Homo sapiens: one gene and its partners. The protein of the gene in region 5 interacts with the protein of the main gene of each other region in a pairwise test. Each region holds a gene or a part of one and is shown on either strand. Other genes may lie near its edges.

What was found.
Region 1: the proteins of PPP1R16A (region 5) and NEK6 interact in binary tests that used the Homo sapiens proteins (3 or more experiments, as listed by UniProt).
Region 2: the proteins of PPP1R16A (region 5) and RGMA interact in a two-hybrid assay, tested with the Homo sapiens proteins (one large-scale study listed by BioGRID and IntAct).
Region 3: the proteins of PPP1R16A (region 5) and NDUFV2 interact in binary tests that used the Homo sapiens proteins (3 or more experiments, as listed by UniProt).
Region 4: the proteins of PPP1R16A (region 5) and UNKL interact in binary tests that used the Homo sapiens proteins (3 or more experiments, as listed by UniProt).
Region 6: the proteins of PPP1R16A (region 5) and TTC23 interact in binary tests that used the Homo sapiens proteins (3 or more experiments, as listed by UniProt).
Region 7: the proteins of PPP1R16A (region 5) and CKMT1A interact in binary tests that used the Homo sapiens proteins (3 or more experiments, as listed by UniProt).

The regions. Positions count from the first base shown.
Region 1 is NC_000009.12:124,264,449-124,267,948, forward strand, and holds part of NEK6 (serine/threonine-protein kinase Nek6), read left to right. Parts: intron 1-3,500. UniProt on the Homo sapiens protein: Protein kinase which plays an important role in mitotic cell cycle progression. Required for chromosome segregation at metaphase-anaphase transition, robust mitotic spindle formation and cytokinesis.
Region 2 is NC_000015.10:93,079,212-93,082,711, forward strand, and holds part of RGMA (repulsive guidance molecule A isoform 3 precursor), read right to left. Parts: intron 1-3,500.
Region 3 is NC_000018.10:9,105,699-9,109,198, reverse strand, and holds part of NDUFV2 (NADH dehydrogenase [ubiquinone] flavoprotein 2, mitochondrial precursor), read right to left. Parts: intron 1-3,500.
Region 4 is NC_000016.10:1,369,705-1,373,204, forward strand, and holds part of UNKL (putative E3 ubiquitin-protein ligase UNKL), read right to left. Parts: intron 1,908-3,500; coding exon 1,815-1,907; intron 654-1,814; coding exon 426-653; exon of another isoform or gene 303-425; coding exon of another isoform or gene 230-302; intron 1-229. UniProt on the Homo sapiens protein: May participate in a protein complex showing an E3 ligase activity regulated by RAC1. Ubiquitination is directed towards itself and possibly other substrates, such as SMARCD2/BAF60b. Intrinsic E3 ligase activity has not been proven.
Region 5 is NC_000008.11:144,498,482-144,501,981, reverse strand, and holds part of PPP1R16A (protein phosphatase 1 regulatory subunit 16A), read right to left. Parts: exon of another isoform or gene 3,213-3,500; coding exon 3,142-3,212; exon of another isoform or gene 3,067-3,141; coding exon 2,921-3,066; exon of another isoform or gene 2,460-2,920; intron 1,887-2,459; coding exon 1,783-1,886; intron 1,716-1,782; coding exon 1,591-1,715; intron 1,496-1,590; coding exon 1,370-1,495; intron 1,297-1,369; coding exon 1,221-1,296; intron 1,141-1,220; coding exon 1,011-1,140; intron 854-1,010; coding exon 688-853; intron 463-687; coding exon 79-462; 3' UTR 1-78. UniProt on the Homo sapiens protein: Inhibits protein phosphatase 1 activity toward phosphorylase, myosin light chain and myosin substrates.
Region 6 is NC_000015.10:99,155,582-99,159,081, forward strand, and holds part of TTC23 (tetratricopeptide repeat protein 23), read right to left. Parts: intron 717-3,500; coding exon 567-716; intron 1-566. UniProt on the Homo sapiens protein: Participates positively in the ciliary Hedgehog (Hh) signaling.
Region 7 is NC_000015.10:43,692,647-43,696,658, reverse strand, and holds the start of CKMT1A (creatine kinase U-type, mitochondrial isoform 1 precursor), read right to left. Parts: upstream 2,801-4,012; 5' UTR 2,609-2,800; coding exon 2,460-2,608; intron 2,133-2,459; exon of another isoform or gene 1,949-2,132; coding exon of another isoform or gene 1,856-1,948; coding exon 1,657-1,855; intron 1,454-1,656; coding exon 1,358-1,453; intron 972-1,357; coding exon 750-971; exon of another isoform or gene 749-749; intron 621-748; coding exon 535-620; exon of another isoform or gene 531-534; intron 420-530; coding exon 296-419; intron 1-295. UniProt on the Homo sapiens protein: Reversibly catalyzes the transfer of phosphate between ATP and various phosphogens (e.g. creatine phosphate).

The DNA of each region.
Region 1 (3,500 bases), on a different chromosome or scaffold from region 5:
CTTAGAAATTCAACTTTAGGATTAGAATTCTGCTAAGAGGTACCATGTGACAAAAAAGGTAGTGTAAAAATCACAAAGACCAGGACAGGCTCATGCCTATAATCCCAGCACTTTGAGAGGCCGAGGCGGGCAGATCACTTGAGGTCAGGAGTTTGAGACCAGCCCAGCCAACATGGCAAAACCCCATCGCTACTAAAAATACGAAAAATTAGCTGGGCGTGGTGGTGGACACCTTTAATCCCAGCTACTCGGGAGCCTGAGGAGCCTGAGGCGTGAGAATCACTTGAACCTGGGAGACAGAGGCTGCAGTGAGCTGAGATTGTGCCACTGCACTCCAGCCTAGGCAACAGAGCGAGACTCTGTATCAAAAAAAAAAAAAAAAAAAAAAAAAGAGTTCTGCAAAGAATGGCACCTGGCATCAGAGCTTTCCCTGAAAGGCCACTAAGGATGAGGAACGTGAGCTCCGGGGAGGCGAAGGGGGCAAAGCCACCTGCCTGTTGCCTGTTTTACATAAGGAGGTTTTGCATAGGAGTCATTTTAAGATACATGAAGTAGCCAGAATAGATAAATCCACATAGACCTAAAGCAGATTGGTGGTTTCCAGGGCCTTTGGGGAGGGGAGACTGGGGAGCGACTGATTAAGGGACATGGGTTTTTATTGGGGTGACGCAGACGTTTTGGAACCGGATGAAGGTGGTGGTTGCACAACATTGTGATTGTAATACATCCCATCCAGCGGTTTGCTTTAAAGTGGTTAAATATATCTGAGAAAAATGTTAAACATAAAAGTTTTGGCCAGGCACGGTGGCTCACGCCTGTAATCCCAGCACTTTGGGAGGCCGAGGCAGGCGGATCACGAGCTCAGGAGTTTGAGACCAGCCTGACCAATATGGTGAAACCCCATCTCTACTAAAAATACAAAAATTAGCTGGGCGTGGTGGCGTGTGCCTGTAATCCCAGCTACTCAGGAGGCTGAGGCAGGAGAATCACTTGAACCCAGGAGGCGGAGGTTGCAGTGAGCCGAGATGGCGCCACTGCACTCCAGCTTGGGCAATAGAGTGAGACTCCGTCTCAAAAAAAAAAAGACAAGTTTGTCTTGCTTTAAAAAAAAAAATACCTCTCCTTTTACAGATGGCGACACTGAGGCCCAGAGAGACATCATGACCAGCCTCAGGTCCCACATGCAGCCTGCTGCTCTGTAGCCTAAATCAGATCACTGTCCCAGCTTTCAGGTCAAGGCTCTGGTTGTGACACCTGGGCCTGGACTGCGGGTGAAAAGTTTTGATGCAAAAACACAGACCGTCCATTGTCCTATGGGCTAAGTGGACTCCCTTCTGCTAACCAGAGATGCTTGTGCTGGCTGGTGTGTGGCACGTTATCTCATTCTTTCATGACGTATGTCCGGATGGAAGTCCTGGGTCAGGCATTGTGCTGGGAGCCCACACGAAGACCCTCTAATGGCCCCACCCATTGGCCTCTCACCACCTGGTGGGGACAGAGGCTGTCACAACCCCTTCTTAGGTGCTCTTGATCAATTTGCAGGTGGCATTTTTTGGGATGTAGTCTCTGGGGAAGTAGGAGAGCTTCCGGCAGTGAGGGGTGTTTGAACCCACCTGGAGGGAGACGTGGGGTTTGCCAGAGGGCTGAGAGGGCTGGGGTGAAGGGCAGGTAGACCCCAAGGTGGAGAGGCAGGTGGGGCCGGTGGGTGAGAGGTGGGGCTGTGGAACTTCCTCCTGCTTCTTTGGCCTTTGCTCCTGTCGGTAGATGGCCTTACCAGGCACTTACTGTGGGCCATGTTCTAATCTAACCCTTAACCTGAGGGAACTCACTTCATCCTCCCAGTGATGCCGTGATGTGGGTATCGTTCTGCCCATTTTATAGATGAGGAAACAGAGACCCAGAGAGTCCAGGATCTGTGGTGCTTGACGAGCATCAGCCTGAGTGCTGTGAGGACACCCACAGCATGGGGGTCTGAGCTGAAAATTGGAGGACAGAGGCTGCCCTCCGGAAGTGACCAGGATGTGCCCTCAGGAAGTGACCAGCTGCCCAGCTCAGGACCTGTGTGAGGGCCCCCAGGCAGCTGGAAGGAACAGTGTGCACCCAGGTACCATGCCAGGGCCCCTGAGCATCCGTCTTGTCATCGCATAGTTGTAACCTGCCTCACAGACTGAACATGCACTCTAGAAGGGGATGGGACTTGGTCTGTGGACCACAACAGTGTTCTCCATGGCCAGCATTGTGCCTGACACATAGGAGGAGCTCAATTAATATTTGTTGAGTGAATGGGAAGTTTTAAGTAGGCACGCGGCCGGATCCTTGGAGAATGTTTATATGGAGTGAACGAATCTGTTAGCAAACGTTCCTCACTCCCCTCAGTGGGCTGTGCAGGGCTGTATTGAGCTGAGCTGGCCCTTCCCTGGGAGAAGAGGTTTCTTAGAGAAATGCTCATCCTCGAATTATTCCAATGAGGAGGAACCTAAGCCCAGAAGGGCTCTACCTCCCAGAGTTACAGGCTCTCCTTCCTATGCCCCTTCCCTGCCGAGGCAGCTCCCACATGTCTGCATAGGAGGGCTTTGGGTTGGAATGGGTCAGTGCTGTGTCTTAAAGCTGCATTTTCTACCAAGCACACACTTTGTTTAGAGGGCATATCTTTTGGGGTTGCTTTGAGGAAAGGCTAACCAAGCCACCTCTGAGCACAGACATGACTTTTTGGCAAATGAGCAGGACCCCAGATTACACCCCATCTTAGAAAGTAGGAAACCCAGCATTGAAAGAGGAAAGATTCTGCAGCTGATGTGGCCTTGGCGGGCCACCAGCGTGGGTGCCCAGATGGCAGGATCACTGGGCACCACATGGCACACAGAAGAGAGCAAAGGAGAGGGAGTCCGCCCCTGGGCTTGGCAGGTCCGGTCGAGTCCGCCTGGATTCAGTTACAACAGGACCTCGAGTGGGCACGGCGTGCCGGACTGAGTCAGTGTGTGTACATTTCCTTTGTTCGTCTCCTCCGGGAATGTAGTGGCCTTTTGTGTGTGTTTTAAATGCCAGCCTCCTTACCTAACCCAAGAGGAAATGAGGACTGGGTTTTTGTCTGTGCAGACGCTGGGACAAGTGTGGGAGCCGCCTGCTCTTGGAGCCAGCCTAGTGGTGACAGCGTGGCATTTGGAAAACATTCTGTGGTTTTCTCCAAGGGGTGATGGGCACACCAGGTGCTGGGCCGCCCCTGAGCTGGCCACTGGGACCCTGAAATGAGGAAGCCCTGTGACCAGGTTTCATGATGCCATTCAGCAAGGGACGGCTGAGCACCACATGCCTTCTTGGCCCCTGGGGAAACACACAGGAATCAGATGAGGTCCCTGCCCCGTCTTCCTGGGGAAACATGCAGAGAAAATACTTGTACTCTGAGCTAACACCTTTCACTCGCACAGACCTTTATGGTGTTCTGTGTCTTCAGACATTGATCACCTGTAGGTGAGACACATCATGGCCCCACTTTCCAAACT
Region 2 (3,500 bases), on a different chromosome or scaffold from region 5:
TTATTTCTTGTCTCTAAGGATAATTCTGATCCACGGCAATTTCCCCGCACATGCTGGAGAGACTTACTATTGTAAATGACCTTTGGGATGGAACTTTGTCAGAAGGAATTTTGAAAGTCTAAACAGAATTCATCCTGGGTTTCTCCCTCGTCTCCAGGCCTGTTTCTGACTCCTTAAAGAATGCTAATAGATTGGTTGGGTTTCATGTTCTTTTTAGAGAACACATTGTGCTTCGTTCAGCTAGTTAAGACTTTATAAAGTGTGCTTCATAATAATACTTTTTTAGTATATATTCTGCAAAAGTGGCTATTTAAAATGACCCTTCTGACCAGGTGCAGTGGCTCACACCTGTAATCCCGGCACTTTGGGAGGCCGAGGCGGGCCGATTACCTGAGGTCAGGAGTTTGAGACCAGCCTGGCCAATGTGGTGAAACCCCATTTTTACTAAAAATACAATAATTAGCCAGGCATGGCAGTGGGCACCTGTAACCCCAGCTACTTCGGAGGCTGAGGCAAGAGAATCACTTGAACCCAGTAGGCGGAGGTTGCAGTGAGCAGAGGTCCTGCCACTGCACTCCAGCATGGGCAACGGAGAGACTCTGTCTCAAAAAAAAAAGGACGCTTCTCAGGTAGGGTGGACTCCCCTTGTGGGCGGGAGGTACAGGGTGCATGCCTGTGGACACAGGTGCCACATGAAAGGACAGTTGTACATTTTGGCTACGAGGATGTTGCTGCCATCTTCATTATCTGAGGCTTCCTTTCTCTCTGTGTAAAGAATATCACCTGAGCTTTGATGCTCCTTCCCTCACCACCAGAGACTCTTATTCTTGGTAATTAAGACATAATTACCAAGAAGAAAAAACTACCAAAAATTTAAAAATTTTACCAAAATTAAAAGTTTTCATTTAAAAATTAAACTAAAATTTTTAATTAAAAAATTACCAAATATTGCCAAGTATTGGATTTTATTCCAAAATTTTAATGGGTTTTTAATTTTATTTTTTTGAGACAAAGTCTTGCTCTGTCGCCCAGGCTGGAGTAGCATGGCACAATCATGGCTCACTGCTGCCTCAACCTCCTGGGTTCAAGCGATCCTTCCTCCTCAGCCTCCCGAGTAGCTGGGACCACAGGTGCACACGCCACCACGCCTGGGTCATTCTTTGGTATTTTTTGTGGAGATGGGGTTTTTGGCACATTCACCCAAACTTACACTGCAGAAGGTAAGTAACCTGCTTGAGGTCACCCAGCAGGCTTGGTGACAGAGTGAGGTTTGGGCAGCTCTGGGTGACTCCCAGCTGCCAGGCCACCTCTGATGAGATCACAGCTGCTCCCCAGGCACGGGGCTTTTCGTTTTCTCTCTGCCTCTACTAACCCTACTCCATCCTCTTGCTCTGAACAGAAGCAACGACTCCCTCTGTGCTCCCTTTGACCTCTGCTGCCCCAGGCTCAGTTCAGGCTGGGCTGGGCTGGGGCCTTCCTGCTGGTTGGCCAGCAGTTTCCATGGCCACCCTTCCGTGGTATTTGGATGTATGACCCTCTTTCCTTCTTTCACACCTGTCCTTCTCGACTTCCCATATTCTCAGTAACCTCTTGGAGCAGCCGTGTTTCTTTTCTCCCTACTTCTCCCATTTCTTTTTACTGGGACTATAAACTGGGGTATAACTACACTTTCTTAATGAAAGTCTCCCCCCGACCACCGCTTTCTTCTTAAAACTCTTGTCTGAGACTTCCTATCACACCTACTATCTGGTCTCCAAGTTTGCAAATTCTTCTGCCTGCAAAACCCAGTACAAAAGCAATAGTATTTATGAATTGCTTAATTGTCAGTGTTGAGATGGAAAGCTTCAAGACACTGCCACTGAATATGGGGAAAGACAGAGACCTGGGATTTGGGGTGGTCCTAACTCCAGCTGTGTGGCACCACGCCCTGTCCTATCTTCAGCCCCTCAGCTTCTCAATCTGCAGAATCACAGCCTGGCTGCCCCAGGAGATCTCCAACCTCCAGAGTCCTGTTTCCAGGGATCCGGTGAATAGATACTGGCTCTGTAACTAACCAGCCTTGCCCACACCTGATTGTGGGGAGCCATTCTGAGGCCTCATCTGTAACACTTCTGCAGTCCCCAAGTTAAAATGTGGCCAAGCACGTAGGAAATGTCATTTGAAGAGTGACATTTCTTATGTTTTGATGTCACCATGAAATTCAGTAATAATGCCCAACAATACTATAGTATACCTGAAACCATACCTTAGAAACATTCAGCAACCGCCTGAAGTTTGAAAGCAGCTTTTGGGTATGCATACACAAGACACACCAGGTTCCCGTAAAAGAGAACAGACCACACAGCGCTTATGTCTCCCCATTCCGGTAAGTTCTTGGGAGAAGAACTGTCTTGGAACCATTTATCCACCAAATGGCAACTGTCTGAACCGACAGTGAGTCTGTCTCTCTCTCAACCAACAGAAGGCTGGAGTATTTGGATTAATGAATAATTTAGTGCCAAGCACAAATACCATAGACATTTAGCAATAAGAACAGATAACCAAGTTGTTCATCAAATTCAAAACTGTTTAGAATGGCTAAGCAAAGCTGAAATAGAGACAATCCCCAGCTGATGGGAGGTGGGGAAAAGTGCCAATCCAGAAAGAAGAACAAATGTGTCACCTTATGTGACATTCACTTCCACCATTGTTTTTCTTTCTTAAATTTGTCAAGGCTAAGGGAATTTCTTCACTTTTATATTACAGAGGCAATATAGCATGCTGGGCTAAGAACATGCAGTCCGAACACAGACTCTCTAGAGCTCAGTTATTTCATCCGTAAGATAGGGATATATTTGCAGATCTATCAAAAGATTGTTGTGAGGATTAAATGAGTCAATACAATCATAACCACTTAGAACAGATGCCTGGCATAGAGTAAGTCTTGATAAGTAGTTGCCAATATTCATTTTATATCATGGACAGGAACTATTGTTTGGACTACAATAGTGCCTACTATGTGCCAGATTCAGCTACAGCCTTTGTATGTACAGGATCTTGGGAGAGCTCTGCAGAGTTCTGCAAGGACTCACGGATAACCTTGACTTCTAGGTGGGTTTTAAGTTCATTTTCAGTTATACTTGAGGCCTGATGGGCACCTACTAGAAAAAACTCCCCCATGTAACCAGCGTCGTCATCTTAACTATGCCACGGGCACAGCCATTTCCATTTCACAAACGAGACAGACTCATTTCTAAGTCTTGTCTAAGGACCATAAATACAAGCAGCCGTGCAGAGGCTCAAACCCAGGTCTTGAGATGCCAAGTGCAGTGTTTTTCCCACCAAACTACAGCTGCTTCTCATCTTCACCCATGGTTTATTTATTTCTGTCAGTCCAATAATATGCCCCACATGTAGAATGACGGCTCATGCATTAGAAAGGGGAATATGTTTAGAGATATACTGTTTTCCAGACATTAACAAAAAATATAAAAACTTTTTAAGAAGAGAAAAATTTCCGT
Region 3 (3,500 bases), on a different chromosome or scaffold from region 5:
AGTGCACACATGAAACATCTCTAGTGAATCCAAAGTGGTCTGAGGTCCCTCCGTGCCTTCCTCTCACTGTTCACAACATCTGCTGACTTGTTACCTACAGCCTCCCCTATTGCCAGCTCAAGCAAGAAAACTGAAACCTCCTAAAAAAGTCAGGGTCTGCAATACATTCATTCAGACTAGGTAATTTTACATTTAAAAAAAATCCTTGAGGCTGGGTGCAGTGGCTCATGCCTGTAATCCCAGCACTTTGAGAGCCGAGGCAGGTGGATCACTGGAGGTCAGGAGTTTGAGACCAGCCTAGCCAACATGGTGAAACCCCATCTCTACTAAAAGTACAAAAATTAGCCGGGTGTGGTGGCACGCACCTTTAATCCCAGCTACTTGGGAGGCTGAGGCAGGAGAATCGCTTGAACCCGGGAGGCAGAGGTTGCAGTGAGCCAAAATCACGCCACTGAACTCCAGCCTGGGCAACAGAGTAAGACTCTGTCTCAAAAAAAAAAAAAAAAAAATTCCATGAAAAACAAAAGTTTTTCAGTGCATTTTATTTTAACAAAGTTGATGCTGGGTTAATAATTGTGAAATCTATTTCAAGGATAATCATAAATACAAATGCTTACTCTATGTCAGATCTCATGCTATAAACTACAAATCTACACTATAATCCATTTATTCCTCTCAGCAAGCCTACCAAGTAGGTATTATTATCTTGTTTTACAGGTGAGAAAATTAAGGCTCAAAGAAGGGGGAAAAACTTTCCCTAGCTCACACAGCTAAATAAATGAAATGCCACATACAGATTTTCCTGACTTCAGTACATGCCTTAACCACTAAAATTTAAGTTTTGCTGTATTTTCAGATAGAAATAGGAGGACTTTTACAAACATCCTCCAAATAAAGTTCCATCAGTAATTTACCTAAAAATGTTAATTCAGGTTAAAATGTAAGTAATTTTTACCATACTATGAGAGAATTAACAAATGTAATTTGGCTAAATTTTATATTATAGAAAAGCTGCATGAAGAGCCCAGGTATTACAGGCACTGTGCATTACAGATTAAGATAACAGCATTAATGATTCCAGCCATCTTGACCATATATTAAAGAAAACATTCTTTAGATATCTAAAATCCCACATGGATATAAGCAACAACCAATTGTTCTAAGGACAAGAATAATTTATAGAAATGAAATGCCCATCCAGTGGACCCGGGGTTCAGTCTCACCTCATGCACTTCAGTGTCTTTGTATATGTAGCTAGCTATACCTACAGCATTATCTCAACTTACACCTTCCACTCATCCATCATGACCAAGGTTAACCTCCTCCTCTTACCCCTTTAAAGCCCCTAAACCTCCATCTCCTACCCCTTTAAAGCCCCTAAACCTCCATCTCTTTTCCCTAAGCAAAGTGAAATCATTTCCCTAGTCTGCTTACACTGGTACACCTTTTATTATTAGAGTGCCTATTAAATTTAAATCTTCACCATACATAGTGATTTCCCTTAGCAACTTCAATTGTTTGAGCAACTTCAGAAAGGTAGATTAAAAACAAAACAAAACAGGACTTGCGAATAAACCCAGCCCTTACTACTGTGTGATCTTGGGCATTTATTTGTCCAGCAATCTTCATATATCTCACACATAAAATGGGGTAACACCTAGCAAAATATCCGACAGATAAAGCCACCTTCCCCCTAACCAAAATGTGTGTAAACTGTCTTTGATGTTTTGTAATGAAAGACATTTCCTACAACTGATTTATAACATGCTTCCTGAACTGATTCAAAAACTAGTGACAAGGTTCCTCATTGGAAAATCAGACTGACTGTCACTCAATAGGTTATACAGCATGGGCAACAGACCTGTAATTTATTACTCAATGTTCTGAGCACTAAGGTACTAAACAGTGCCCAAAGAGAAAGGAAAGTCAACTTTTTATTACTTTGAAATGGAAACTGAGTTCAAGTCTCTAATAAAAAGATCCGAGTCTGCAGTTTGCAATAGTGGCCTACTGAACCTCACTGCATAAACTAAAGTTTGTTCATTCTCTCTCTCCTTAAACTGCTAATTTATGGCTATGGCAGGCAGAATAATGGTCTCTCAAAGATAACCACATCCTAATCCTGGAAACCTGTGAGTATTAGTTTACACAACAAAAGAGAATTAAGGCTGCTAATCAGCCGACCTTAAAATAGGGAGATTATCCTGGATTATCTAGGTGGGCCCAATGTCATCAATCACAGGGTTCTTACCAAGAGGCAAGGAAGGATATGTGATGAATGCCAGGAGGGTCGAAGTGATGTGATATAAGAACTAGACTTGCCTTTGCTGGCTTTGGAGATGAAAGAAGGGGCCAAGAGCAGCCTCTAGAAGCTGGAAAAGCCAAGAAAAGACATTCACCTCTAGAGCCTCCAAAAAGGAATGAAGCTCGGGCTACACTTTAATTTTAGCCCACTGAGACCTGTGTCACTTTTAACCTACAGAACTGTAAGGTTAAAAATATAATGTTTTATGCCACAAAGTTTTGTGGAAATTTGTTACAGCAGGAATAAAAAACTAAATGTTTTGGGGTGTTTTTCCTACATTAACTTCTTTAGAGTCCTTTGAGTCACAATGGAGATACACTGGGACATTACAAAATCAAGTTTAAGAATCTCTAATGGAATGGGGAAAACATTTCATTGTACAAAACTTAAAATTTGGAAGGAAAAGTACCACCACACAAGATGGCATACTTCTAGTATGGCTAAGTAGACACTGTCAGGGCAAACCACTGAATAATAACTATAAACTCTGGACAAAATATTTTATAAAAACAAAAGCTTTCTGAAGGCACTGGGGAACAACCAAACAGGCAGACACAGAAGGGGAGTCTACATTCATAAAAAACCAATGAGGTTTTTGTTTTTTCTTCACATCTTTTAGCCTGAAGGCAGGCCTCAGTGAGAGTTTGGAACAACAGACATGGTAAAGTGGGAAATCCTAGAAAAGGAAGAGCCAGAAAGGGGGAGGGAGCCCTATACATTCTGTATATAAATTCTACGGAAATCTCTGGCTGAACCCTGAACCATGCATGTACATGCTGCAGACTCCAAGGAGCCTAGCTAAAAGAACGGAACCAATATTTGATCTGCTGCCCACAAGGGATATGGATAGCAACAACAAAACACACTATTTGGAGGAATAAAACAGGATCTAGAGCCTCTACAACGTATCATTCACAAAATTCAGCATACAATCCAAAATTGTTCAACATATGGGAAACAAACAAAAAAGGAAAACACATTTTCAAGAAAAAAATCAACTAAGATTACCAGACACAAACTTCAGGACAGCTATAATCATGCCTAAAGACATAAAGGAAAATATCCTCGATGAATGAAAAAATACACAATACAGATGGGTCGCTGACTTACAATTGCCTGTCTTGCAAATTCCCAACTTTACAACTGTATGAAAATGATAAGTATTCAGCATGCTCCTCGATTAAGTCCAGATAAC
Region 4 (3,500 bases), on a different chromosome or scaffold from region 5:
GCACGGTGGCTCACTGTCATCCCACACTTTGGGAAGCCAAGGCAGGCAGATCACGAGGTCAGGAGTTTGAGACCGGCCCGGCCAGCGTGATGAAACGCCATCTCTACTAAAAATACAAAAACTAGCTGGGCGTGGTGGCGCCCGCCTGTAGTCCCAGCTACTTGGGTGGCTGAGGCAGGAGAATTGCTTGAACCTGGGAGGCGGAGGTTGCGGCGAGCCGAGATCGTACCATTGCAGTCCAACCTGGGCGACAGAGCGAGACTCGGTCTGCGGCGTGGGGGAACCTGTGAGCAGCAGGTCATGTGGTTTGCCACCACAGATAGGGCACAAGGTTCCGTGTGAGGCCCCTCAGTCAGGACGGCATCTGGGAGGGAGCCCCACGGAGGCTTCACGGCAACGCCAGCATGGAGGGAGCCGGCACTCACCTAGGGGGCTGTAGGATGAGGCTGCAGAGCCCAGTGTGCCCGGCTCTGAACGCAGGGGTGGCGGCTGCTGGGGAGGCGTCATGGCTGAGGAGCCCACCGGCCCTGGGAGGGGCTGGGACAGCGAACCGAGCGGCGAGGTGGACGCAGAGGATGGCGAGTGTAGCGATGGTGCTCTGGGCAGGGAGCCGGGGATGGCGACAGGTGCAGAGCCGGCCAGCGACCTGGGACCTGGCGGGGGCGGACCAGTCAGCGAAGGGAGTACCGCCAGGCCTCTGCCCAAACATCTGCCATGGGCGGCAGCCGTGGAAGACGGACCCTGCAGGTGGTGGTGGTGGGGATATGGGGGGTGGGAATATAGGGGCCAGGCCAGCCACCACCATCTATGTGTTTGGAGCCACAGCGCCCCCGGTGGCCATGTCCAACACAGCTGGGCAAGCCATGGGCTCAAAGGGATTCCAACCAGAGGTGGGGAGACGGGGGTTTAACATGGGCCCCCCCCAAAGAGGCCGGACACCCACCAGGCCCTGCCGGCCAACTAAGCCATTGGCACGGTCCTCCCAGCACTTGTCCAGGCCCCCTGAAATGGTTTACTTTCTTTTAAAAGAAAGAAAAGATACACTTTTAGGCTGAATGAAAAGATGTTGTATACGATGTTAAGATACATTTGTATGGGGCCGGGCGCACTGGCTCACGCCTGTAATCCCAGCACTTTGGGAGGCCAAGGCGGGCAGATCACGGGGTCAGGAGATGGAGACCATCCTGGCTAACATGGTGAAACCCCGTCTCTATTAAAAATACAAAAAATTAGCTGGGCGTGGTGGCGGGCACCTGTAGTCCCAGCTACTCCGGAGGCTGAGGCAGGAGAATGGCGTGAACCCGGGAGGTGGAGCTTGCAGTGAGCGGAGATCGCGCCACTGCACTCCAGCCTGGGCGACAGAGCGAGGCTCTGTCTCAAAAAAAAAAAAAAAAAAAAAGATACATTTGTATGGATGTCAATCTTTTGTCTACAATGTGAATACATTTATCCTTCGGGGACCATCAAGACTTTCAGGAAAGGCCCCGCCTGTCTCTGCGCGGCCACTTTGCTGGGACAAAGGTCAACTGAAGAAGTGGGCAGGCCCGAGGCAGGAGAGATGCTGAGGAGTCCATGTGCAGGGGAGGGAAAGGGAGAGGCAGTCAGGGAGAGGAGGAGGAGGTACCGCCAGAAGGGGATCCTCCCGCTCCGAAAACCAGACACCGGGTCTTGCCCTGTGGTCCAGGCAGGAGTGCAGTGGTGCAACCTCAGCTCACTGCAGCCTTGACCTCCCCGGGCTCAAGCGATCCTCCGGCCACAGCACTTGGCTGTTCAGCGGCTGGAGGAGCAGGGCCCCAGGTCCTCCCCACCCTCACCTGCTGCTCCCAGGTCGTGGCCGTCTTGCTCTTCCAGGTCCTTCTCTAGGGATGCAATATTCACATTGCTAAGATGCAGGTCTAACGCAGAACCTGTCAACAGAGCCCCCCATCATCCACAGCCCACCCAGCGCTGCAGAGCTCAGGAAGCCTAGCTGAGGAGGACGACCGTCCCACCTGGGCTTAGAGTGAGACCAAGGGCAGAAGGCGTGGGAGTTGCTGGGGCAGCCAGGGAAGGACACCCCCAGCCCGTCCTCGCAGCCCCCCACAGGCAGTGTGAGGCTTGGCTGTTCCTCCGGCAAAACGAGCGTGCTCAGGTGGGACGCCCCGCACCACAGACCAGCAGCTGGGTCCTCGCCTCTGACACGCTGCTGCTGCCCCTCAGAGTTTAAATACCTAAGTGTGTGTTAGCATCTGTCCACGTGTGCACATTCGACTGTTTAAAAAACTTTCCAGGGCCGGGTGCGGTGGCTCACACCTGTAATCCCAGCACTTTGGGAGGCCGAGGTGGGCAGATCACAAGGTCAGGAGATCGAGACCATCCTGGCTAACACGGTGAAACCCCGTCTCAACCAAAAAAAAAAAAATACAAAAAATTAGCCAGGCGTGGTGGCGGGTGCCTGTAGTCCCAGCTACTCGGGAGGCTGAGGCGGAAGAATGGTGTGAACCCCAGAGGCGGAGCTTGCAGTGAGCCGAGATCGTGCCACTGCCCTCCAGCCTGGACGACAGAGCAAGATTCCATCTCAAAAAAAACAAAAACAAAAACAAAAAAAAAACTTTCTGTGAGGGTGATTTCAAGGAGCAGGTGTTCACGTGCAATTTCATGCCAAGCACCAAGACCTCAATTCCCAAGGCTCAAGACTGAGTGGGAAGGACCCGCCTCAGAGTGGCCTCACCCAGCCAGCCCTGCCTTCCAAGGCTGTCCCCACACATCCCTGCAGGCCGTGGGGCTGCCCTCCTGCACGGGCCCTTCCCTCCCAAGTCCCCACCCCCAACCCCGAATGGCAAGCAGGGACCCCACTGCCCCTTCCTAGAATTAGGAAGCCATCATGAGGAGGCTGAGCTCAGGCCACCAGCCCCTGAAGCCACAGCGTGTCTCAAACTCCCGCAGCCACTGCACAGAAGTTGGGTTGGGGGTGAGGGGTGACCAGAGGATCTGGGATCTGAGAGCCCACGTGCCACCTGGGGCAGACCAGAGGACCGCAGCGGCTGCAGGAGCTCTGGGATACACCCTGTGGGCCGGCGCCGCCTCCCCAGCCCAGCCCAGTGTTGTGGCCAACACCGCACAGAGACCTCAGCAGCGTGGGGCACACCGCACAGGGACTGCCGGCCTACACTGCACAGAGACCTCAGCAGCGTGGAGCACACCACACAGGGACTGCCGGCCAACACCGCACAGAGACCTCAGCAGCGTGGGGCACACCACACAGGGACTGCCGGCCAACACCGCACAGAGACCTCAGCAGCGTGGGGCACACCACACAGGGACTGCCGGCCAACACCGCAGAGACCTCAGCAGCGTGGAGCACACCACACAGGGACTGCCGGCCTACACCGCACAGAGACCTCAGCAGCATGGAACACACCACACAGGGACTGCCGGCCAACACCGCACAGAGACCTCAGCAGCATGGAACACACCGCACAGGGACTGCCGGCCAACACCGCACAGAGACCTCAGCAGCA
Region 5 (3,500 bases):
CAGCACCAGGGCACGCACCGTGGGGAGGCAGCCTTGGGCTGTGCCCGCGACAGGGCCCCTGCATGCTGAGCAACAGCCTCACATGAGCAGGCAGCACGGCCTCCTCTCCACGGGAGCCTCCACCGCCGGGGCTGTGAGCTTGAGCAGGGGTGGGTCCCCGCCTGCCCTGAAGCCACAGTCAGGCTGGGGGGTCACCGTGTCACCAGGCAGGCCAGGCTCAGCTGTCTCAGGGCTCTCGGGCCCCTCAGGTGGGGGTCGCTGCAGCTTGGCAGCAGCTCGCTGGCGCTTCAGGTCAGCCAGGGTGTGGTGGGCCTTGTCGTGGACCAGGGTGTGGGGGGTGGTGCTGTCCAGGGGGCTCAGCTGGTAGGAGACACTCCGGTCTAGTCGCTTGGAGTATAGATGCCGCACTGGGGAGCCCCCTACTCGGCCATTGTGCGGCCTGACCACTTCGGGGTTGTCCTCCTGCGGGCAGTGAAGGTCCCAGAGCCATCAGGAGGCTCCTCCCCCCTCCCTGGCCTTGGGTTCAGGCTGTATGGTCATGAAGGGACAGACAGGAGAGATGGGGCAAAAGCTGGCCCCTGCAGGGCACCATTCCTGACACAGGCAGGAGGGGGTCCAAGCGGAGAGAGAACCAGGGCAGAGCCAGGCCCACCCCTGCGCTGGGCGGAGCAGGGACGGGGCGCTCACCTCCGGGGGCGGCGGCCTGAGCTCTGCGCCTGTCTGGCGGTCATCGTTGTCCTCGGGCGGCTCCGGGCTGGTGGGCGGCGGCTGTTGCCACACGATGGCCTCCTGGGCGTGCTGCTTGCGGTACAGGTCGGTGCGCTGGGTTAGGCTCACCCGCCTCACCACCTTCCTGGGGAGGAGAGAGGAGAGGGAGTGAGGGGAAGGGGAGTGCCCGGAGGACCCCGCCCACCCCCTCGGACTCTGCCCCCAGTTCGGCTGGCACTCCGCCCGGGGCTGACGTCCGCGGGGCCAAGCCCGGGGCGGGGCCTGCTGGGGGCGGCGCTCACCCGCGGCTGCCGGCGCTGGAGGTGCGGCGGCGCAGCAAGGAGCGCTGGCGGCTCTGGGCGCGCAGGAGGGCGTCGTGCTTGTGCTTCAGCTCCAGCAGCTTGGCCCGCACCTCCTCGTCCCCGCACACATCTGAGAAGTGGGCGCAGGCGTCAGGGGCGCCCTCCCCGCCTGTCCTCTCCCCCAGGTGGAGGTGGGCCCCGCAAGCTCACCAAGGGGCGTCTCGTCCATCAGGGACTTTGCGTTCAGGTCGGCCCCGTGCGCCACGAGCAGCTCCACCAGGGGCACCTGTGGACGGCAGGCCGGAGCTGCAGACTGCTGCGCTGGAAGCCCCCTCCCACCTGCTCCCGCCCGCACTCACCTGGCCCCAGTAGGCCGCGGCGTGCAGCGGCTCCCAGCCGTCTTGGTCCTTAGCGCTCAGGCTGGCTCGGTGTTCCAGCAGCAGGGCAGCCGCCTCGCTGAACCCGTTGGCGGCTGCGACGTGCAGCTGCAGGCAAGCGCCCGGCCTGAATTCGGCCCCATCCCCCACCTCCAAGTAGCGAGGCCCCCAGCCCCGTGTGCCCCTCACCCCCCAGCCCTCACCAGCGTGGCCCCGTGGTCCAGGGGGGCATGGAGGTCTGCCCCGGCCTGCAGCCGGCTCCGGATGTCGTCCAGCATGCGCAGTTCTGGCACGGCCCGGGCGGCCTCGATGCTGTCCTGGGTGATGCCTGCGAGGCGGCAGGCTCAGAGGGAGCGCGACCGGCAGCCCTCCCACAGCCGCACCGCCGCACCTACCACGGTCGGCCATGGCAGTCTCCAGGCAGTCCAGCGTCTGCTCATCATCACACAGGTCATAGGGCATGTTCCCGTCGGTGTTGACCGCCAGGAGATTGGCGCCACTGCAGGGAAGACGGACGGGGTGCTGGGCACAAGGCCCTTCCCCGCTTGCCAGGCTCCTCACTTGGAGAAGTCCCCGCCAGGGCCCCTCAGCCCAGGGCTGCCCCTCAGGAGGCACCCTGTCCACCTGCTGCTGGGAGAGGCAGCCTTGGGGCCCATCGGCTGTCCTAGATCCTGTCATTAAGCCAGACAGGCCTCCTGCAGTCTCTATCCATCCAGGGATCCAGGTTCCTGGCACCTCCAGGGGCAGCGGTGCCCCCATAAACATGCATTGGATGGGCCTGCCTGCTGGGGAGCAGGGAGCACAGGGTGGCGGGGGTGCAGGACCAGGCAGCCACGCTGAGGGGCTGCTGAGCTGTGGGGAGCATGGCCCCAGGGAAGAAGGGCGGTGAAGGGGAGCCCAGAACACAGAAGGGGGTGTCTGTGTGCAGTGGAGGAGCAGGCCTACCTGTGGACACCCCACATCCCCGCCTGCCCCGCAGCGCCTGTGTGTGACGCGACCGCCATGCACACCCCACCCGGCCTCACAGGGGCACTCGAGAATGACCGCAGCCCTGACCTCTCTCCCACTACAGATGCCTGGAGCAAAGGGGAAGGGAGGAGGCTCATGGACCCTCCCTGCTCAGAGTTCCCCCCGCTCTACGTCCCTCTGTGTTAAAGGTAAAGGCCCTACCTGTGCTCAGGTACCCTCTCCTCCCAAGCCACCTGGCCTCCTCACTCTGCTTCCCTCCTTAGCAGTTCTGCCCTCCTCACTGACCAAGACATTTCTCTGTGCACACTCTGGGGGGGGGCCCGAGGCCTGCCCTCTCGGCAGGAGGACGAATGCTGGGGAGGCAGGGACCGCGCTGCCCTGGGCACATGCCCATTCCCCTGGAGCCCCAGGCCCTGCTCTCCATGCCAGGACACAGGCAGGGTCAGCAAAGGTGAAGGCGGGAACACAGGAGGCCGAGAGCCACAGATACTGCCCAAGAGGAGCCTCCTGAGCGGCCATCTGAGAGGAAGCCTCTCCCTGCCAAGGACGCCCAACAGGCCCTACCTGGCGATGAGCAGCTCCACCAGGTGCAGGTGGCCGCAGGTGGCCGCAGCATGCAGAGGCGTCCAGCACTCACTGTCACAGGCATTGATGTTGGCCCCAGCCTCCAGGAGCTGCTGCACCATCTCTCGGAAATCATCAATGCAGCACTGCAAACCGTGCCACGTGAGCGACCAGAGCACGGGGGCCAGCCCCCACCCTGCCCACACCCAGTGCAGGCTGACCTGGTGCAGGGCCGTCAGGCCGTCCTCGTTGGCCAAGTCAGGGCTGACCCCACTCCCAAGGAACTGGCGGACTGCAAAAAGGTGGCGAGGTGAGGACAGGGTCCTGCCCCTGGTCAGGTCCTGTCAACTGTGCTTCGGCCCAGGACCCAGGGAAGGACAAGGAAGACAGTGGTGCCGATGGCAGGAGGCACACCAGAGCCCAGGGGTGGGGGCAGAAGCACCAGGCATCTGTCTGGCCCAGGCCGGTCACACTCCCAGAAGCCCTCTGCCTCCACCCACCTGCAGGCCCTTCATGGTGGTGCTCCAGCCCTCCGACCCCCAGAACAGGCCGTGCTCCTGTGTGAGAGCAGCACTCCAAC
Region 6 (3,500 bases), on a different chromosome or scaffold from region 5:
GACACATGAATAAACAGAAAGACTAGTGGAAGAGAAGAGAAATCTAGAAATAGACTTAAGTCCATAAGGAAAATCAGTATATGATGAAGGTGTTATCTGAAGTCACTGGAGCATAGATGGGCTCTCTAATTAAATGGTGCTGGACAACTGGGTGGCCATTTGGAAAAAAGGTAAGATTAGATCCATTCCTCATGCCATCCACACAAATAAACTCCAAATTTAAAGAAGAATGACAATTGAAGAAAGTGTAAGAGAATTCCTCTATAAACTCAGTATAGAGAGAGCACCGCAAACATAAAGGACTGATCAATTGTACTACGTAAAAAATTAAAAATATTTGCATAGTAAAAACTGATAATTCATTTAAAAAATATGTATGTCTAAGAGGCTTACTATGTCTTTTACCCAAAAAGTATCAGGTTAGATCTACCACAAAAGTGATGTCATCCTATCTAAACAAGCCACTTCTAAAGTTTCATTTAAAAGAACCACCACAAGGGAGAGAAATTGACCTTGGAGAGGGGAGGGAGAGCCTAGTCTCGTGTTAGTACTGGTTCCAGCTTTACCTTCTTCAGTTTCTTGCGGGCCCCACTGTGGTTCCCCTGCGCCAGGTCTGCTCCTCCCAGGAGCCGGTATGTCTCTGCCACCTCGGGACTGAAATCGCCAAATGCTTCCACTTTGGCTTCCAGGGACTCTCTCAGGATCGAGGTTGCTCTCTGTGAAAGGAACAAAAAGCTATCTGGTTAACAAGCTCAAAGGCTGATTAGGATCATTACGCAACTTGTAACATTTTCACATGGGTGTGGTAGTCTCACGAGCTGAGCCTGTTCTCCTCTTGTATTAGTCCATTCTCATGCTGCTATGAAGAGATACCTGAGACTGGGTAATTTATAAAGCCAAGAAGTTTAATTGACTCACAGTTCCACATGGGTGGGGAGGCCTCAGAAAACTTACAATCATGGCAGAGGGCACCTCTTTCATAGGGCAGCAGGAGAGATAAGTGCTGAGCAAAGGGGGCAAAGCCCCTTATAAAACCATCAGATCTTGTGAGAATTCAGTCACTATCGCAAGAACGGCATGGGGGTAACCGCACCCATGGTTCAATCACCTCCCACAGGGTCCCTACCATGACACATGGGTATTATAGGAACTATAATTCAAGACGAGATTTGGGTGGGGACACAGCCAAATCATATCACCTCTGGTTGAACAAGAGTCAGGAAACAACACGAATGTGAGGAAAGGTGTAAACTATGAAGAGAGAGGACACCTGGCAAAATAAACCCACTCAGCCATTACAGGAATCCATTTCAGTTGAGTAGTAAGAACAAAAGCTGACATGGATCAGTCCTCACATGTCACTAATTGTGCTGAACACACACAATTGTGTGGGTCTCATTTAATTTTTGCTGTCTTCTTTAGATGGGTAAAATTTTAATCCTCATTAGGCAGAGGAGGAAACAGGCACGGCAGTTAAGAAACTTGCTCAGAGTCAGAGGGCTCAGCTGTGGTGGTGCTAGGATCTGAATCCAGCCAGTGATCTTCATACCTTTTTTTTTTTTTTTTTTTAAATCCGTCTCACCGTCTCAGCAGATCTTCCATTTTACAACAGCAGGTGGAAATCTGGAGGTTTTTTTTTTTTTTTTTTTAGACAGAGTCTCTCTTTGTCTACCAGCCTGGAGTGCAGTGGCATGATCTCAGCTCTCTGCAACCTCTGCCTCCCAGGTTCAAGCGATTCTCCTGCCTCATCCTCCCAAGTAGCTGGGATTGCAGGCGCCCACCACCATACCCAGCTAATTTTTGTATTTTTAGTAGAGACAGGGTTTCACCATGTTGGCCAGACTGGTCTTGAACTCCTGACCTCAAGTGATCCACCCACCTTGGCATCCCAAAGTGCTGGGATTACAGGCGCGAGCCACAATGCCCAGTCTAATTTTCATACATTTTAGTCCCATGCTTTTCTCCCTCTGTCCACAATGCTATTCTTACAGAAGTGAAAATATAGCATTCCTGGGCAAATTATCTATGTATAGAACATCCTGAACACACTCCAGGCTTGGCTATTCTCATAGGAAATCGTTTAGGAAACTGAAAGTAAACATTCCAACATGACATGACATTTTGTTTGGTTTATCCAATTTATTTATACTAACATGGAATAAAAATTATGAATTGGTCAGGACATAGTATTTCCTGATATTAGCTTCTTCAGACACCAAAATATGCAGGGGGAAACCCTGTTAAAGTATGTCAATCCTCCATACTTTCTCCAGAAATTCTTCCACGATCTTCCACATGAAGGCACGACATCAGCTGCAGAGCATGGATGCTGAATTTAACTGGCAAATACAGCAGGGACCATGGGAGCTTCCTCATGACACAGCCCCAAAGGGGTCCCAAAAGTGCTCCACAAACAGAAGGACAAGGAGGGCGTTTAATCCTTTTGTTGGCAATAATACAAGTTAGGGGATAGGGCCGGGGTAGGGGAACCACATTACAGGTGCTGATGAGGCAGAAATAAATTTCTCAGGTGAAAGAGGAATCTCTGTAGAGGCAGAGTGATTGTGTAACTCAGCAGTGAGGCCCCACTGAGGTACATGAGGGACTAGAATTTAAATCTAGACTTGCCTGAGGGTAAAGCCCATCACATCTCCCAAGTTCTGAGAGCAAGGACTTGGACTGCTGAGAGTGCTGGGTTTGGTGATATTTCTGTGGGAAAATATCACTGTCAGACTTAGAGGAGCCAGTGATGGGGAGAAGACCCGGGGAGACTCCCTTTCCCAGATAAAGCTTTGGATGCCGCCTACAGCCTGACTGCGGAAACGGGGAGATGTGAAGGAAGTTAAATGGCACGGGTTTCTAGGAAACTGAGATAGTATCAACCTCTGCTAGGAAAAGCTTAAGAGAGAGGAGTGAAGAGTAAAGAGGACTTAGGTGGGATGAGAAGAGGGTATGGGCCACTGGGAGCACAGGAGGAACACATGGCCTGTTGAGGGCCAGTGAGTGGCCAGGCTGAGGAAGTCACAGAAGATTCTTGAGCAAAAGAGTGGCACAACTAGAAGACAAACCCTCACGGAGTAGCTTAACCTGTGGCAGAGTGACCTTCACTTACATTTTACCTTAAAAGGCATTTCATCCCTCAAATATCATGTTCCACAGTGCCCATGGCCATGTGCTGTGGGAACACCTGGGATGGCCTGAGCACAGCCCCATTCTTGGCTCCGGGACTGTCCCTGGGCCCGGCCCTTGTTGGCCAACACCTGCTAGAACCCACAGTGAGAGGTTTGCAACCAAATGGTGAGAACAGCATGAGACTGCCATGTTTGGCTGGGCAGGTGGTGCCACACACAAGGGTGCCTGGCAGGAGCATGGGGAGGGCTGAAATCCAGCCTATGGTCCTCTCCAACATGGGCGGTATCTACCTGAGGAAGGGGCAGCTTTTTCTATTATGATAAGGGCATTGGATGGGCTGGCAGTGGCCCTAGAATGAAAAGAGCCAG
Region 7 (4,012 bases), on a different chromosome or scaffold from region 5:
CACACATCCCAGGCACTGACGTGCCATCTCAGTTATTCCTTCTTTGCATTACCTGCCTTCTTCACTTTCTAAGGTTCCTGACACTCTTTTCCTAATCTTAGTGTGACCACATGTCCTGGTTTTCCCAGTATGGTCCCAGCTGGTTTATACCTTTAGTCCTAGAGTGAGTCCTAGGTAGTCCTTTTTACCATCAGACATGTCTTGGGTTGGTTGATAAATTACATAATCTATTTATGCTACTCTTTGGTTTTCCTTATGTCCTCCCACCTAGCTCCCCTACACAATCTTCTCTAACCTCTTTGAGGCCTCGGCAGAATCTTTCAAACACTCTCTTCATGTTACCACCCTTCTCCATGGAGATCACCCGTGTATGATCCTCCTCATTCACCCAGATCAGGAAGCTCTTCTCATTGTTGTGCCTGAGGGCCGGAGAGGGACAGTGATCAAGAGGCAAGGCAAGAATTGGGAGAGATAGAGGGAAAAAAAGCATTTATGAGGGCATGAAGACAAAAGAGGTAATGAGCAGCTTCATACCAAATTCCACGAGCATCTGGCCAGTCTCGAGCCATTCCTGCTGCAGTCAGCAACGGGGACACAGGCTTATCAAACAGAAAGTGGTCCTGGGAAGAGTAACGGGACTTGGGTTAAGAATCTTCATGGTGGCCCCTGGGCCTTTCAGAGCCCATGTCTCATCTGGCCCAGCCTTCCCCATCTGCTCCCACCAACCAGCACCCTCTTAAGGCCCTCACATCAATAAGCTGCTGCTGTTCAGCCTCTGTCATCTCACTGAGCCTATAGTAACGTCCAGCCAGGTCACCCTTCAGGCCACTCAGTGCATCCACCACAACACGTTCCACCTCTCGTCGCTCTGCTCGAGTGCAAGCTGGAGGCAGACTGAGTCCTCGGATGCTTCGGCCAGTTCTGACTCTAGAGGACAATACATACCTCTCATCAAAGTAGCCAGAACGGATCTGGGAGATAAGGGAAATGAATGTAAGTCACAGAAACACGGTGGGAACTGAGGGCCCCTGGGAAAGGAGAGACCTTCCTTAGGCATTAGAGGACTCTTTGTGCATTCTTCCTGCATGCATTGGAAGAAGAGGCCCTTTGGGAAAGCACTGGAATTGAAGGGGGCATTGCAGACCTTTCCCCAAACCACCCACCTTGGGTCATGGTCATTCTTATCTATCCTTCCATCTCCATATATGCTGCCCCTTAAGATATGATTCTTTCCTTACATTAAGATTAAAAGCTCAGCTGTATAATGACCATGAGTCAGGAAATAAGGTGAAGGGGTTGGAGATACAGAGTGTTGTACACAGGCAATGCAAATCAGAAGTGGGATATTTGAACTCACTTTACTGGCATCTAGATCCGTGGTGTGCTTCATTGTCCGGGGGTCATATCCATTGTGTCGCTCTTGGATCACAGGGTCAAACAGGTCAGCAAATACCTAAGGGGAGTTAAGAGGGAGAGATGGTTAAGGAGAGGGAATCCCTCCCCAGACTTCAATTGTGCATTGATTTCACTGGTTCAGAAAACTTAAGTATGGGGGGCTCAGAGTCTTGGGGGAAAGTGAGAGGTCTTTAGGGGAAAGGAGCTGGGATTACTGGGAAGATGAATTGGATCATCAGGGAGACTCTGGGGACCCCCTACCTCATAGGTCTCCTCATCTCCAGCCACCATGCCCACAGTCTTGATGAAGGGGTGGCCAGGGTTGTCCACGCCAGTCTGGATACACTGATCTAGCGTCCAACCAGTGGGTGTGGTCTTGTCGCAGAGCCGTGCATAGACTGCTGGGGTCAGGTGACTGGCCATGCAGTTGTTGTGCTTTCGGAGGTCTGGGTACTCAGCGCTGGGGAGGGGGTACCCAGTAACCATGGAGGGAGGGCACAGACGCCTAGACCTAGTGCAGTTACCTGGGAGCTGTCCAGTTGGCCATGTCTGGCTTTGCTCCGCGGGAGGAGGGGGAATTAGAAAGAGGGTAAACCTTGGTAATCTCTTTAGGGACTTTCAGAGTCTATGCTTTCCTAATAGTTCTAGTTGCCTCTGGCTGGCCAGCTCAGTTTCTTCAGATCTGCTCAGTTCTTTCCTCCCATGACACAACACTACGGATGGAGGAGGGGAAAAGCCTAAGGAGAGGAATTGAGGAAATGAGGGAAGGAGATGGAGGGGAGCGAAAAGGATAGTTCCTGGCTTTACAATTAGGGATTTGGGCAGCCAGTGCAGCTAGAACTCGTAGGGCCAGAGCTGGTCTTGGCAGGTCCCCAGGAATGTTCTTGCTTTATGGTTTTGGCCCCCACCCCCACCCCACTGAGGTCTGCAGACTGCACAGCCCTCCAGCTCCAGGGCCTTCGTGATTATAGCCCTTCTCTGTTGCCCGGATTCTCACTTCTACCCGCACCTTCGTTCCCATCACCTCCTGCCCCCGCCTCCTCCCGCGCCTCAGGCACTGTTACCTCGGGGGATACAGCCTCCGTCGTTCACTGGCAGCTCGTACAGGTTCCGGTCGGAGCAGAAACCCAGCGGCTAGAGACCCCGCTCCGGCCAAAGCCAGGAGCCTGAGTCCCGGGCGGGCGGACAGCAGACGGGAGAAGGGACCAGCCATGGCTTGAGGTCTGGCTACGGGATCCTGGAGTAGGCGCTGGCGCAAGATAAGATCCGGAACAGGGAGGGAGGATGCAACCGGATAGACCGAGGGCCGGAGCTAGGTCCGAGGCTGCAGCCGAAATGGGGGTCGGATTGGAGGCTGGAGCCGGAATGGGAGCCGGTGCCAATCAGACTGCAGGAGAGGCGCAATGAGCTAGTGGCAGGCGGGCGGGCGGAGGAGAGGGAGGCCCCAGCCGCAGTCTCCAGGGGTGGGGCTCCCCCAGGCCCCGCCTTCCCGCCTGCCACCGCGCTAGGTGCGCGAGGGCAGGGGTGGGCAGCACCCGCCAGGTAATTAGCGGGACCTGAGACTCGCGCGTCTAAAGCCGGGGATGTAGCCCCCTCCCGCCCCGGGGATGTGGCCGCCCAGATTTCAGCACCAAGTGGAGGACAGCACCCACGTGGACTAGCTGAACCCAACACCCTTCCCCCACACCCCTCGGTTTAAGCTGAAACTCGATCCGTCTACCCTGTGGGTGTGCAAGGGTGACACTGCCCAACCTTTCCTCTGCTTTCGGCCTGCCCCAGCCACCTCTTCGGTCTCCCGGGGGCAGCCGCGGGGAAACCGCGGAATAAACACAGATACCAGAGGAGGATATGGAGAAAGCACAGGGTTAGAGGCAGGCACTGGGAAAGACACCCACTGGCTCAAGGTCACCTTTTCCTTAGAACCAGGAAGAGGAGCAAGGTGCTTCCTTGCCACCTCTGTGCACGCCTTACAAAGTTGAGAAAGGACTCCCTGGGAGGAACCAAGGAAATATTAATTCTTATGCCATCTGTGCTGTGTCCTCCACCTCCATTCTGCACCCAAGTCTGAAGCCCTGTTATTTCCTGCCTCTGCTTCTCATGATCCCCCACTTTTTGTTTTCCTTTTGTCTCTCCCACTTTCCTCCACGTCCCCTACCTCACCTTTGATCTTTTACTTCTCTGCGTCTTTTCCAGGCTCAGATGTGTTTGCTGCTCACAGGATGCCCTCTGCGTTTTCTCGGCAAGCTTGCCCACCTGTTGGTGGTGCTGGGTGTGGGGGTGGGCAGGGAATCGTTAGTTTCCTCCTCCTCCTCTCCCTTGGCTTCTCTCTCCGTAGTTCCTAGTTCCTGTGCTGGAGGAGAAGGTAAAGTGAGGTGAAGGGTGTGGTGAGATGACTGGGTGTGGGACTGGAACAGGCAGGCACAGGTCTCCAGACACCACATGTGTTTCCTCTCTTGTCTCCCTAATGCTGTTTAATCCAGAGAGTAAAGGCGAGTGGTGTACAAAGGCATGAGGTGGTCAGGGAATCTCTGCCTTCCTCGTGGTCCCCTCTGCTGCTCTCTCTCTCCTCGTGAAACACATATTCAGATTTGAGAGGGCTTTGTTTCCCAGCTCCAGG